Homo sapiens: one gene and its partner. The protein of the gene in region 2 interacts with the protein of the main gene of each other region in a pairwise test. Each region holds a gene or a part of one and is shown on either strand. Other genes may lie near its edges.

The links. Proteins that work in one complex are often made in the same cells at the same time.
Region 1: the proteins of MARF1 (region 2) and PEX14 interact in binary tests that used the Homo sapiens proteins (3 or more experiments, as listed by UniProt).

What each region holds. Positions count from the first base shown.
Region 1 is NC_000001.11:10,617,905-10,624,949, forward strand, and holds part of PEX14 (peroxisomal membrane protein PEX14), read left to right. Parts: intron 1-427; coding exon 428-513; intron 514-5,114; coding exon 5,115-5,217; intron 5,218-6,435; coding exon 6,436-6,533; intron 6,534-7,045. UniProt on the Homo sapiens protein: Component of the PEX13-PEX14 docking complex, a translocon channel that specifically mediates the import of peroxisomal cargo proteins bound to PEX5 receptor.
Region 2 is NC_000016.10:15,633,148-15,640,192, forward strand, and holds part of MARF1 (meiosis regulator and mRNA stability factor 1), read right to left. Parts: intron 6,145-7,045; 5' UTR 6,087-6,144; coding exon 5,943-6,086; intron 3,196-5,942; coding exon 2,509-3,195; exon of another isoform or gene 2,359-2,508; intron 1,785-2,358; coding exon 1,610-1,784; intron 1,113-1,609; exon of another isoform or gene 863-1,112; intron 697-862; coding exon 470-696; intron 1-469.

The DNA.
Region 1 (7,045 bases), on a different chromosome or scaffold from region 2:
TGGCCCCCAGCTTATCGCCAGCTATAGTAGGGCATATATGGGTATATTTATGCTCCCCTAAACATACTCCTGTTATCCTCTCTGGATCTTTTGTTCCTGAGGTAGAGACCATGCTGTTGGTCTTCAGATCACCTCTGCCACCTGACTGCCAACTCAGGTCTCAGCTCACTGCTAGATACCTCCACCCACAGCCTGCAGTCAGGGTTGGGTGACTGGCATCCCTTGTGTCCCAGTTGAGGCAGTGGGAACAGGAGGGGTGGAGCCGGCTGCTGTTGTGATGATCATGTGCTGCCTTCCTGCGTTGGAGTGTTCCACTTGCCCATTGTTGGAGGCGAGGAGACTGTGCCACTGAGGCACCTGTGCCAGCCCCCACCCGAAGAAGGACGCCATGTGCGTCTTCTAACCCTCCTCCTCTTCCCGCCTGTAGGTCCCGCAGGCTCCCGATGGCGAGATTACGGCGCCCTGGCCATCATCATGGCAGGCATTGCATTTGGCTTTCACCAGCTCTACAAGGTGAGTCACCCCCAGCGGCTGCAGGTGCTGTGCCCCTGCCACCCTGTGGCATTCAGCACCCTTTCACTGGTTCCCCTGCATGGAGGCACTGCCGTGCTCTGCCCTGGAGTGTGTTGGCAGTGAGAGGCTGTGGTAGAGGTCGGGGTTCACAGCTGGATCCAGGCAGACCCTGCCCTGCTGTGGGGCTTGGCAGGCTCTGCCCACCTTTTCTCCAGTGCTCAGCATATACCACCCAGATCTCCACTTGCAGGGGCGTCGTGAGGTCTGTCCCTTGCCAGCCCATGTCAGGCACTTACAGTAGTGCCCGCACGGGGAAGCCGTGCGAGCAGTTTTGAGACACAGAATAACATAATGGCGAAGAGCATGGACGCTGGGCCAGCTGCTTTGCTGAGCCCTGGCTCTGCCCCTCAGGAGCTTGGTGATCACAGGCTCTGGTCTGTAAAATGGGAATAACAGTCCCCACTTCACAAGGTTGTCGTGAAGTCCGGAAGAGTCAGTCTCCCTTGTAGAGGACTCAGAGCCATGCCCGGCACATGGAAGTGCTTTATACACCATTGTTCTGCCACAGCATTTAAGAGCGGCGGTGAGAACCTCAGTGTCATCAGATGTATGGGAGCTGTTCTTTTTGCTCTGTCTGTTGTGCTGCCATCTATAGAAATCTAGGATTTCCCAGGCTTCTCAAGTCAACTTTCAGGATCCCAGGTTCATTGCTTGCAACAGAACTGCAGGCATGACGTGAACATTGACTCCCTTGTGAAGGCCCAACTTGGACGTGAAGCAAATGAGTCTAGAGTCTAGAAAATGCAGGCCAGGGTAGGTGCCCAGTCCAGATCTTGGGACCCTGTAGAGAAGCCTCTTTTCTTTCGAGGCTGCCAGCTCCTCCACCCCTGATTGGTGATTTTTTTTTTTTTTTTTTTGAGATGGAGTCTCGCTCTGTCACCTAGGCCGGAGTGCAGTGGCATGATCTCGGCTCACTGCAAGCTCCGCCTCCTGAGTTCAAGCAATTCTCCTGTCTCAGCTTCCTGAGTAGCTGGGATTATAGGCGTGCTGGTGCATGCCTGGCTAATTTTTGTACTTTTAGTAGAGATGGGGTTTCACTGTTGGCCAGGCCGGTCTCGAACTCCTGACCTCAGGTGATCCGCCCACCTCGGCCTCCCAAAGTGCCAGGATTACAGGCTTGAGCCACCGTGCCCGGCTGGTGATTTTCTTTTTTAAACAACCTGAATGAGCACTCAGACTCGCCATGGTCACTCTTAGCACATGAAACATGGTCAGCCATGGTATTCCAGATTCTTCATTTTTGATGTAATACAAAAGCTAATGACAGTTGTAGCAGAATATAATTTTTTAAGTGTAGCATGTATTCCTGGAGCTGGACATTTCCATGTTAGAAATTGAGAAACAAGGGCTGGGCGCGGTGGCTCACGCCTGTAATCCCAGCACTTTGGGAGGCTGAGGCTGAGGATCCTGACTTGATCACGAGGTCAGTAGATCGAGACCATCCTGGCTAACACGGTGAAACCCCGACTCTACTAAAAATACAAAAAATTAGCCCAGCATGGCGGCGGGCACCTGCAGTCCCAGCTACTGGGGAGGCTGAGGCAGGAGAATGGGGTGAACCTGGGAGGCGGAGCTTGCAGTAAGCCAAGATCATGCCACTGCACTCTAGCCTGGGTGACAGAGCAAGACTCCTTCTCAAAAAAGAAAAAGAAAAAGAAAAAGAAATTGAGAAACAAAACATCCTGGGTTGGCCCAGGTGCCGTGGCTCACACCTCTAATCCCAGTACTTTGGGAGGCCAGGGCAGGCAGATTGCTTGAGCCCAGAAGTTTGATATTAGCCTGGCCAACATGGTGAAACTGTGTCTCTACCAAACAATAAAATAAAATAAAATAAAATAAAATAAAATAAAATAAATAAGCTAGGCATGGTGGTGTGAGCCTGTAGTCCCAGCTATACTCGGGAGGCTGAGGGTGGTGGGAGGATCACTTGGGCTCGGGAGGTGGAGGTTGCAGTGAACTGAGATCACACTACTGCACTCCAGCCTCGGCAACAGAAGGAGACCCTGTCTCAATTTAAAAAACAAAATAAGCCAGGCGCAGTGGCTCATGCCTGTAATCCCAGGACTTTGGGAGGCTGAGGTGGGCGGATCACTTGAGGTCAGGAGTTTGAGACCAGCCTGGCCAACAAGGTGAAACCCTGTCTCTACTGATAATACAAAAATTAGCTGGGTGTCATGGCGTGCACCTGTAATCCCAGCTACTTGGGAGGCTGAGGCAGGAGAATCACTTGAGCCTGGGAGGCATAGGTTGCAGTGAGCCTGCAGTGAGCCGAGATTGTGCCACTGCACTCCAGCGTGGGTGAAAGAGCGAGACTTTGTCTCAAATAAATACATAAATAAACAGAACAGAACAAAAACACCTCTTGGGACCCGGTTCTTCTCCCTCTGAACTGGTGCCCCCTTCAAATCACTGACTGTATACAAGCACCAAGAAGAATGTGACACGAACGCCAGAGTCCTCAGATGAATGCCCTGGCTGTAATGAGCAGTAGGCACTGTCACATGGCCACCCATGGAGGGCCTGTGGCCTGACGGGAGCGGGAGGGCAGCTCGGCAGCCCGCCTTAGCGTGGGCACTCACACGGAGCTGCCACTTGTAGTTTCTACGAAGCTCTGGGCTCTCCGCTCTGTTTTAAAAAGAAAAGAAACATTGCAATATCAGTCACAATGGTAACAAGAGAATTTCTAAAGCATCTGCTCAGTTTCTCGAAATTAAAAAAAAAAAAAAAAAGAAATGGTAAAAAGCCCTCGACTGGCTTTATAAGCACGTGAAGACTTTGGCTAGGGCAGCGTGTCTGCTCCTGCCCTTAGGACTTCTGATCTCAGAAATGGGGTGTTTAGTTGGTTACACACACATATATGAATTCTTTTTTTTTTTTTTTTTTTTTTGAGACACAGTCTAACTCTGTTACCCGGGCTGGAGTGCAGTGGCATGATCTCTGCTCACTGCAGCCTCTGCCTCCCGGGTTCAAGCGATTCTCCAGCCACAGCCTCCCGAGGAGCTGGGATTACAGGCATGCGCCACCACACTCAGCTAATCTTTATATTTTTAGTAGAGACGGAGTTTCACTGTGTTGGCCAGGCTGGTCTCGAACGCCTGACCTCATGATCTGCCCACCTCAGCCTCCCAAAGTGCTGGGATTACAAGCGTGAGCCACCGCGCCCGGCCAAGAATTCTTTACCTTTCTTGCTGAGGACATTTCATCCTGAAGTGTAAGGCTACCTTTGATGAGTTTTGGCTCAGTTGTGGGTAATAGCTCACACTGTGGTTGAAAAGCACTTTGCAAAATAGAAAATGCGTCTATACATGTGCTGCTGAAGAATGATCTTCACTTAGGAGTCACTCTGGAAATGAGTTCCCACAAACCCCTTGTGAGAGAGCTTCTTTTCCTTCCCTGGTACAGAAACCGTAATGGAGAAGTTTCCGTCCTCTTTCCTATCTGGGCCCAGATAGATTAAGAACCAAAGTTATCCCCGGGCAGCTCCTGCCAGGCTTGCACTGCACTGCCTCTGGCAGTGCCCACTGAAGGGGGCAGCGGGTCTCACTCCTCACCTGGGGGGCTTTGTCTCCATGTCCCGAGTGGCTGGACGTCAGTGCACATGTTCCTACACGCAGCTGTCCCTGCAGGCCCCACCACCCACCTCCACCCCTCCACACCCTCACCTCCAAGGCAACCAAGAGCACCAGTTGCCAGCCCTGCCCTGCCTGCCCCCTTCCTGAACGGCTCCTTCGGGCATCCCTGGTTCTAGGCCCCTGTGAGGGGTGGCCCTGCCGCATTCACTTTCTTTTTCCCCAGAGCCAGTTTCTTCTGGTCCTGCGCCTTCCTCTCCCTTCTGCCTTGTGTTTCCTTCTGGGGAACTCGACTTCTTTTGACTCTTACGTGAAGGAAGTTTGTTCTGAGGATTCAGGCTTCATTTAGAAAAAGACTGAGGTGACCTCTTCCAGCAGCCTCAGAGCGCACATGTTATCCCCTGGCGAGAGAACCAAGGGTCCCAGAAATGTGTTGTTGATTTTCCTTTAGTTTCTCCAGCGATGTTTTGTTTATTAATTTACTCGTTTGTTTCTGAATAGGTGATTCACTCACAGGTTCAAAATGTTCACAATTCAGGAGAACATGCCGGGAAGAGCTGCCCCGCCTCCCTCGCCTCCTGGAGGCTCCAGCATTATCTGTTGCTTGTGTGTCCATCCACATTTATATCTTACAACTTTGACAGTAGAGTTTATAACTTTGTGTTACAGAAATAGTGTAGCATCACTAAGAAAAGTAAATAAAGGAACCAAAAAGTTCCCATCACAGCAGATCCAGCTGACTCTCCCTGTCCACGTTCCCTCCTGGTCCTTGTCCTTATTCAGGCAGAATTTTTACGTGGTTGTAATCGCAGTCTCATAACTTTTTCAAATATCTTGTTCATTTATGGTGTTTGCTTAGGGTTTCCAAAACCCAGGGATGACAGGGAGAAAGTTGGGCGGCAGAATTTGAGAGATTGTTGGAGGATAACCCCGGGTCCGTATGCATTCCTCACCCTGTCCCGCTTCTTGCAGAAATACCTGCTCCCCCTCATCCTGGGCGGCCGAGAGGACAGAAAGCAGCTGGAGAGGATGGAGGCCGGTCTCTCTGAGCTGAGTGGCAGCGTGGCCCAGACAGGTAAAGATTAATGACTCCATCAAGTCACCCCTCACAGCCTTCTCCAAGCAGCCCCTTCTCTGCCCCTCCCCTCTCCCTCTGTCTCCACTCTATGTGGTGACTTCATTTATCTGCTCTGAGAATCTGTTCACATTTGCAAATGAAGCCGCCGTCATTTCGGTTTAATTTGAAATTGCTTGTTTACTGTCGGCGCGGCCTCAATTAATTATGTTTTTACGGAAAGGCTCCCAACCTCAGAATATTAATAAGGGGAATAAAATGACAGCCTTTCTAAGGGCTGTAAAGTTCATTTTTAATTTCTGCTTCTATGAGGTTTTCAGGGGGGTTTTCAGTGATTTTCCCCCTTCCCTCTAAGACTCGACTGTGGGGTCAAGAGAGTCTGTAATTACTGTGGCTCCCGGGACCCCAGCCACCTCCCCTGTTATCGACTCAACAGGGCTCGCGTTCATTACCCAGTGCCCCAGCGATGGCCCAGATTAGCTGGGACCTGTCGCGCCAGAGGTGGCTTCTCTTCTTTATAAACTTGTTTACTAGACGGCAGCTCTGAATCTAAAAACCAGAGCAAGGCCAATGAGAGAGCCACCTGTCCCAGGCAGGAGTCTGTGTCCCTCTGGAGCACGTTTGTGAAGCTCACAGAAACCCTCTGACACGTCCATCCTGCTGCCGTTTGCTCCTGCGAGGCTGACATTGGTGGCAACAAGGTCCTGAGGGGTCACGGGACACCAGGGAGTTGAGCAGGCAGCTTGGGTCAGGTGGGGAGGGTGGGAAGGAGCAGTGGGAAACAGGACGTGCGGCTTGAGCCACTCCTGGATGTGAATGTGGCGGGGACCTGAGATGCATCTCTCCCAGCATTGGAGACCCCAGGAGTTTCACAAGGACACTGAGGCCCAGGAGATGAAGGACGCAGGCGCCAGAGAAGCCGGGAGAGCTCAGCAAATCATAGCCAGCTCTAATTAGAGGGGAGAGGTTCTGGACGGATATACTGTTGACCATGGACAACTACACAATGGAAAGATAAAGTAGAAATACTAGAGGTTAGATACAGTGCAGGCAGATCACCCAGAGTGCAGATAAATTAGATGGATTGCGGGGGCTGGGGGTGTCTGCAGATAAATTAGATGGAGCGGGAACACGGGCAGCTCCGAGGTGTGCGGACCGAGCGAGGGGAACGTCTGTGCCTGTGAATTTGCCAGCGCCGTGACTGCTTTCTCCTCGCAGTGACTCAGTTACAGACGACCCTCGCCTCCGTCCAGGAGCTGCTGATTCAGCAGCAGCAGAAGATCCAGGAGCTTGCCCACGAGCTGGCCGCTGCCAAGGTACCTGTCTCTGCTGCACAGGGCCCTCCAGGCCCAGGTCTGTCCCATGTGCCCTTCACTCTTGTCCCTTGGGCCGGGCTTGCCACCTTCGGGAGCTGGACTTTGCCCCAGTCTCACAGTGGTTACACAGCCGTGGCCGATGCTGCCCTTTCTCTCCTTGTAGAGACAGGAGGCTGTTGCTGGGCAGTCAGTGTGACGTTTAACTGTCGAGGCCATCCTTTCTCTCTCTATGTCACCTCCCAACAGGAGGAAGGAAAAGCTACCCTCTGCCTGTGGAGATCTCATGGCAGCCACATCCCCGCAGCTCTGGAGGCTTTCTGTGTAGACATGGGACGGTCTCTACCTATAAGTTAGGTTGCAGGTCACAGCATGGCCAGGAGGGGTTCTGGAACAGACAGGGGAGAAGCGAGTCGCAGTCAGTTCACCAGCACCAGCCCCATCCACACCGCAGTGCAGCGGGCAGGTTCTCTAGACTCAGGTTCCATGGGTTCTGGCAATCCTAGGGAGCCAGA
Region 2 (7,045 bases):
ATCAGAATTCTAAAAAAAAAAAAAACACCACACACACACACACACACACACACACACACGTACAGCACTTTTAGAGGCCAAGGCAAGAGGACTGCTTGATCCCAGGAGTTTGAGACAAGCCTCCACCACCTAACCCTGGATCCTGAAAGCCATCCAGGGGTGTCCAAGGGACAGAATACAGTCATGGGTTCTTAGTTTCTGTTTCTGGTTGGAACATAGGGAGACCTCGTCTCTACAAAAAATAAAAAATGAGCCGAGCATGATGGCGTGCATCTGTGATCCTGGCTAGTTGGGAGGCTGAGGTGGGAGGATCACTGGGGTCCCAGGGTTCGAGGCTGCAGGGAGCCATGAATGCGTCACTGCACTCCAGCCTGGGTGACACTTAGACTCTGTCTCAAAACAAACAAACAAACAAATATCTGCTTATTCCTCTACTGTAGATTAAAATTATTAAATTTTTTTTTTTTACCTGGCAATTATTCAGCTCTTGAATAACTTCCTTGTTTTCTTTACTGATGTCACATACACAGATGAATTCTGCTTCTCTGTGGCCTTTAAAAAACTTCTCACGGATTCTTTGCACAACAGCAGTTGCTGACCGGCCAGAGGGAACGGAGCAGTTTTCAATATCCCAAAAAACTCCAATGGGGGGTAAGTTTTCTAGCACCTGTCCAGCTACTGCAACTTCTGGTGACCCTTAAGAAATGTTAACATTTTCAATTACTTGTAGTGGAAAATAAATGGCAAGTTACAATAAGATAATAAACTACCTATCATTCTCAGTGGTAGAAAAACTAAATTATTAATGAATGCCAAGTTTTAAGGCTACCAACCTCACTGGTTGACCTAATAAGCAATCAAGCTGTCAAAAAGTATCACTCTAAGAGATTATTTCTGTTTTTCAGGAGAAGACAAATCTAAAAGTCAAGTAACTTTAAGCCCACAATAAATCCACCTCCAAGCATGAGCCACTCTGACATTAAGCAGTGATGCTTCTCTGAACACAAGCACACTAACTGACCGGATACTGCAGCTCCAGGACCCGACTTTCAAGCTTAGCCCACACTTATCTACCTACTTGGTAGTAACCAACACTGAGGAGCTGACAAAGGGTGAAGCTGTTACTGTCGTTGATTTTGAGTTAACGCTGCATTAACATCTGATTTAATATTTTAAAAATGTTTTCAAAACGTCGCATTAACTACTTTTTAGGGAAATTATTTTAACTGAGAACTCTTTGGTTTTCAAATACTGTTTTTAATCAGCCATTAGTAAATTGTTCTAAGCACTTCTAGGGAGTATACCATCAACAAGTGTGATTTCCAACCTAAGGTGACACCAAGTCTTTTCCAGCACTTTTATTTCTCCTGATATACTACCAATTTTTCTATACACAGCTTCTGTGTATAGCCTCGGCCCAACATAAAGGGCAAATGACTTCCTGGTCCATAATAATAAAAAGATTTCTACCAAGATATGGAATTGGAGACTCACATACACAGTAGCTTTAGAACCATAAGGAATCCTTCAAAGGTGATTAAATGCAATGTTAGTATGAGATATTGAAAGCTATTTAAATATGCACATTTTATGCCATACTGTCATTTACCAAATTTTGAAGCAGCTTTGCCTAGACTGGTCGCCAATAACAACGTGGTCTCCTTCCCTGTTCCTTTGGTTCCACAGCCATTACACAGAGGGACAGCAAGAGGTGCAGGTTGAGTATTTGGAGGTGGTATATTTGGCCAGACTTTAGCCGCATCGATTATGCTATTTCTTGCTGGCTGTTTTAAATTTTTTTTAAAAAGGAGGAGGTGTCAGATACATCATTTCAGAAGCTGGAGTTATATACAACAACTGAAAATACACTCTAAGTGTTTTACCTTTCCACTTGCTAGCCTCTAATAAAAAGGACTTTCAAATAATCTTTCCAAGAACCATTAGCTATCAGTTCATAAATTCATTTCCAGAAGTGACTTGACATGATCAAGAAAGATATTCACGTGGTCAGATCTTTACATTCTGGGGCATGAGTCTGCTGCAACGAAGACCTCACACATATTTTACATAAAGGGTAGCAAAGTCTCACTTGAACACCAATGTGACTGAGGCCAAGCTTCAGGTTTCCCACATTATTGCAAAAAGACAACATGCAGTTATCTACCTTACATGAATGGGCCCATGTGTAAGCTGAATGTAAGTTATAAAAAATCCATCGTGCTTTAGCCTTTAAACATAGAACACGAAGGCTTTGCCAACCTCTTGTTTGCAACAAGAGGCTCTAAAAGTATAAACTACAAAAATAATGACTCTCTACTTTTTTGAATGATCTCCCATCTTACCCTTTGTTTCTTTCAGAACCAGCAAAAATTATGCTGATGGGGAGATTCCCCTATACCATGGGAGAATCTTCAACCCCATGTATAATACTTTTCAAGATAAATCCACTTCAAAAGTCATTCCTCAATCCTCAGCTGCACCCAACTTAAGAAATAAAAAGATACGAACCTTGTTTAGACAGTCTTCGCAGTAAAGTGAGCCCTTTAAACAAACCGGAGGTACCACATTAAGGTGCAAAGAGTTGGTGCACAAGTGAGGCGTTAGCTCCGACTGTGAAATGTGCTCTTCCAAATGCCCTGGAGCCCCGCTTGTGAAATCAGAACAGGGGAAATAGCCAGCGGAGGTGCAGCCCTGCAGACTCGGAAACTGATGCAGCTTGTGCACATTACCATGACATGACTGGAAGTGGAGTTTTCCACAACAGGGCAGGTGTTTGCAGGAAGACAGGTTACTCTCTAGACACATGCTGGGAAAGTCACTTGCAATGCCTGCCAAATTGTTCCTAGCTGAGGCATTCTGGAGTGAAGATGCAGACTGGAAAGCAAACCCTGACCCTACCTGACACGTGATTGTCCTGGTGCTTTGCGAGTCTAACAGTGCGCCCGGGTGAATCAAGCTACTGGTACCTCCGCTACCGCCACCACCACCACCAAAACGCATTGGCGAAGTGGAGGGTTCATTAGGGCAATGAGCACAGCAGCTTACTTTGGGGACAGAAGAAAGCTGTATTTTAGGCTGCTGAAGAGAACGAATATCAGGAAGTGGGACTGCTGGAAAAAGCTTAGAGCCAGCATGAAGGGGTGATGGTACATCCTTTAGTTCCACAGCAACTTTCTTGTTCTCCATGTACTCTTTCTGAGAAAAGAAAATCAGAACATAAATTAATTTTATGAGGTCCGTGGTTTTTTGGTTACTCATATCTTACTGCATGCACAAACAGAAATAGTGTTCAATTCTGTTACATCACTAAATCATAACTGAACAAAATGGAATCACAGCTAGTTAAAACCAGGAACATTCTTCAGAGAGGTCTGCAGGACATGAACACTGGAACACACAACTAAAATTAAGACTACATTCTTCCTGAATTGAAACAGACTGGGGTGGGAGGGCCTGTTTACATCTTTAGCAGCCACCATGCCTCAGTAACTTCCTTTTGGTAATTTCCCCTTGCCTCACAGAATCTTCTGAAGACAAAATAGGTGGTATGAAAACAACCCCTCACAAACAGCATTCAATAAAGATGGCTAACACACACAGTGGTTTGAGGACAATACTTAATAGTTCTGTGGTCAGGCCATAAGGGGTTTTAGTAAGATCCCCCAAAGGAAAAGAGTAAAGTTTCAAACACAGATGAGATCAGCCATCTACCCAGATGGCCCATCCGTGTTGCTGATGACATTTCATAAACCCTAAGATATCATGACCTAAAGCCATAATGACAATTATATTGCAGCCAGTGAAAAGATTTAGAGAATTAGAAAACTATCCAAGAAAAAGATCCAAGACAAATAGTTTGCCACATGACTCCAACACAGACACAGGAAGCCAGTATATTACAAAGGTTCTGAGCAGAGCATCAGTGGCAGAGACCTGGGTTAGAATCTGATACTCAATAGTTGTATGACCTTGGGTAAGTTACTTAACCTACACTTTGGTTTCCTCATCCATAAACTGGGAATACAATATACCTCCTAGAGTTGCTAGGAGGATAAAATAAGATAGAGCACATAGACCACCTGGCACAGTACCTAGCCACTGAAAGGGGACTGAATTCATCAGCCTTCACAGGCTGACTGCAAGAGACATTAAGATGAAGAGGGGGCCCTGCTACAGTGACTGAGACGTGCTCACCGTTCACAGCATATGAGGGTCCATCTGACGCCTAAAATTCCACTCCCTTTGCTGTGATTCTACACTCACCTGGGAGCATAGGCTCATCTGGAAGAAATGTGAATTTTCAGCTAAACTTTCCCTAAAAGGGAGATAACAGCAACGGGCTGACCAGCCAATGAACTGCCCTCTTGGTAATTATAGTTCAGACTGAAATTAACACACTGGTATTCTGATTTATACAGATCAGGCTCATACAGGCAGGCTTACTATGAGTTGATCCCCTGAACCTACTCCATTCTGCATGCCACTGACAAAATTGAGTTTCAAGATCTGTAAAGTTGACCGTGTAATTCTGAATTGTGTGACTCCATGAGGACCAGATCTACCACCCCATCCCAGGAAGCCTTGCTTTTGATGCCAACCCTCACTGTCAACTGTCTCTAAAATAAAACACTCCTAAAATGACCCAAATTACTTGATGTCTTGCAACAAAGACAACTATATAGTGAAAACCTAGAGAAAATAGAGAATTAAACTGGTTTTTAAAAAGTTATTAATACCCGGCCAGGCGCGGTGGCTCACGCCTGTAATCCTAGCACTTGGGAGGCCGAGGCGGGTGGATCACCTAAGGTCAGAAGTTCAAGACCAGCCTGGCCAACACGGTGAAACCCCATCTCTACTAAAATACAAAAATTAGCCAGGCATAATGGCGAGTGCCTGTAAACCCAGCTACTAGGGAGGCTGAGACGGGAGAATCCCTTGAACTAGGGACAGTGGTTGCAGTGAACCCGGATCGTGCCACTGCACTCCAGCCTAGGGGGCTGAGCCGAGACTCTGTCTCAAAAAATAAAATCAAATAAAAGTTGTTAATACCCTTATATAAAATTATATTACAGTCTCACTTGAATCCCACATACAATAGAAAATAAGAAATAGAAAGGTGGTAACATGAGTGCATGAAGTCAGGAAATGTCAAAATTGGCTGGACGCGGTGGCTCACGCCTGTAATCCCAGCACTTTGGGAGGCTGAGGCGGGAGGATCACTTGAGGTCAGGAGGTCAAGACCAGCCTGGCCAACATGGCGAAACCTCGTCTCCACTAAAAATACAAAAATTAGCCAGGCATGGCAGCACAGGCCTGTAATCCCAGCTACTGAGGAGGCTGAGGCAGGAGAACTGCTTAAACCTGGGAGGCAGAGGTTGCAATGAGCCGAGATCGCACCACTGCACTCCAGCCTGGGCCACAGAGCAAGACTGCACCTCAAAAAAAAAAAAGAAAATGTCAAAATCACAATGAGTAAGCAAGAAGTTAGAGACATAAATGTATACTGAGAAGTAAATATTCAAGAGAAATCTCGAAATAAAAAACAGGCAGTGGATAAGCTCTTCCCAACCCTTCCTAGATTATAGACTCAAAACTCAAGAGGGCTACAGTAAAATACAACATATTTTGTATTTTCCTCTGATTTTACTCCACAATGTGGATTTTTAATCTTTGTTACCTGTGACTTTAATGAGGAAGAAATCTTTCCCAAATTTTAACATTAAATATTCAAGGCATCTACTGTTACTCAAAGTGAAATAGAAGAGTTAAAAAATTGTGCTGTGCTCTCACATTATAATGTGGTATAAGAGGCAATACAGGCAAGATCTACAGAAAAATGTGGCACAGACTCTAGGATGAGAGACTGTATCCCAGACCAAATGGACCTCTCTCATCTATTTGGATGAGGAATCTGCTACATCCTTAGTCTTGCATATAGTTACCGTTTGGGGACTATGTGGCAGCGTCTGCTCAGGACGAGAAAAGCAATTAGAGAATTTCCAAAGCCATGGCTTAGCATCATTATCTTGTTGAAGCCATCCACGTGTTCTACTGCAGGAGTTCTCAGTTCCGTTTCCTTCCATCATACAGCCATGCAAAGTGATTCAACATCCTTTCATCTTTCTTTTCTTTCATTCTTCCACCCTGTTAAGAATGAGTAAGATTTCAGTGTTATTTCCTTGCATAAGTACAAATTTTACAACATACTAAAATGTGAAACCACAGCTATATTTACAGTCCTATGGCTCTCAACAATTCAAATCTTTGTTTCAAGAGGAAGTCTCGCTCTGTCGCCCAGGCTGGCATGCAGTGGTACGATCTCAGCTCACTGCAACCTCCGTCTCCCGGGTTCAAGCGATTTTTCTGCCTCAGCCTCCAGAGTAGCTGGGACTACAGGAGCCTGTCACTATGCCTGGCTAATTTTTATATTTTTAGTAGAGATGGGGTTTCACCAAGTTGGCCAGGCTGGTCTTGAACTCCTGACCTCAAGTGATCCACCCTCCTCGGCCTCCCAAAGTGCTGGGATTACAGGCATTAGCCACTGCGCCCGGCCAACAATTCAAATCTTAACAAACAAAATAATAATAATAAAATAAAGAAAGAAAAAAACACAAAATATCAGAGCATATTACGGGTTAATAAAATTTGGTAAACTTGGTTGACTGTTTATGCTTAAAATCTAACTGCAACAACCTGATTTCTTAAAAAATCTATAATCTGCCATTCTTCATGTTTCATAGCTCTTCAAATAAAAAATGAACTCTCCATGAGTCTTGTTTCCTTTCCACATGTAACCATGTTTGAGAGAGGTAGCCATATCTTGGAAACTTGCATATTCCAGAGTGAGACTTCACCTCCTCACTTGGCTGGAATCAATTTTTTCTACAGTTTTTCTGAATTCTTTTCGGCTCTCTCTCCCTAAAGATGCTGCTCAGGAAAGTCAAAAGTTAACAGAAGAGAGCATCTAATCTGAGTAAAAGAGCCACCACCACATCCTCATTGACAACTATATGTAAGATTTTAAAATTGACTTAAGAGCAACTTC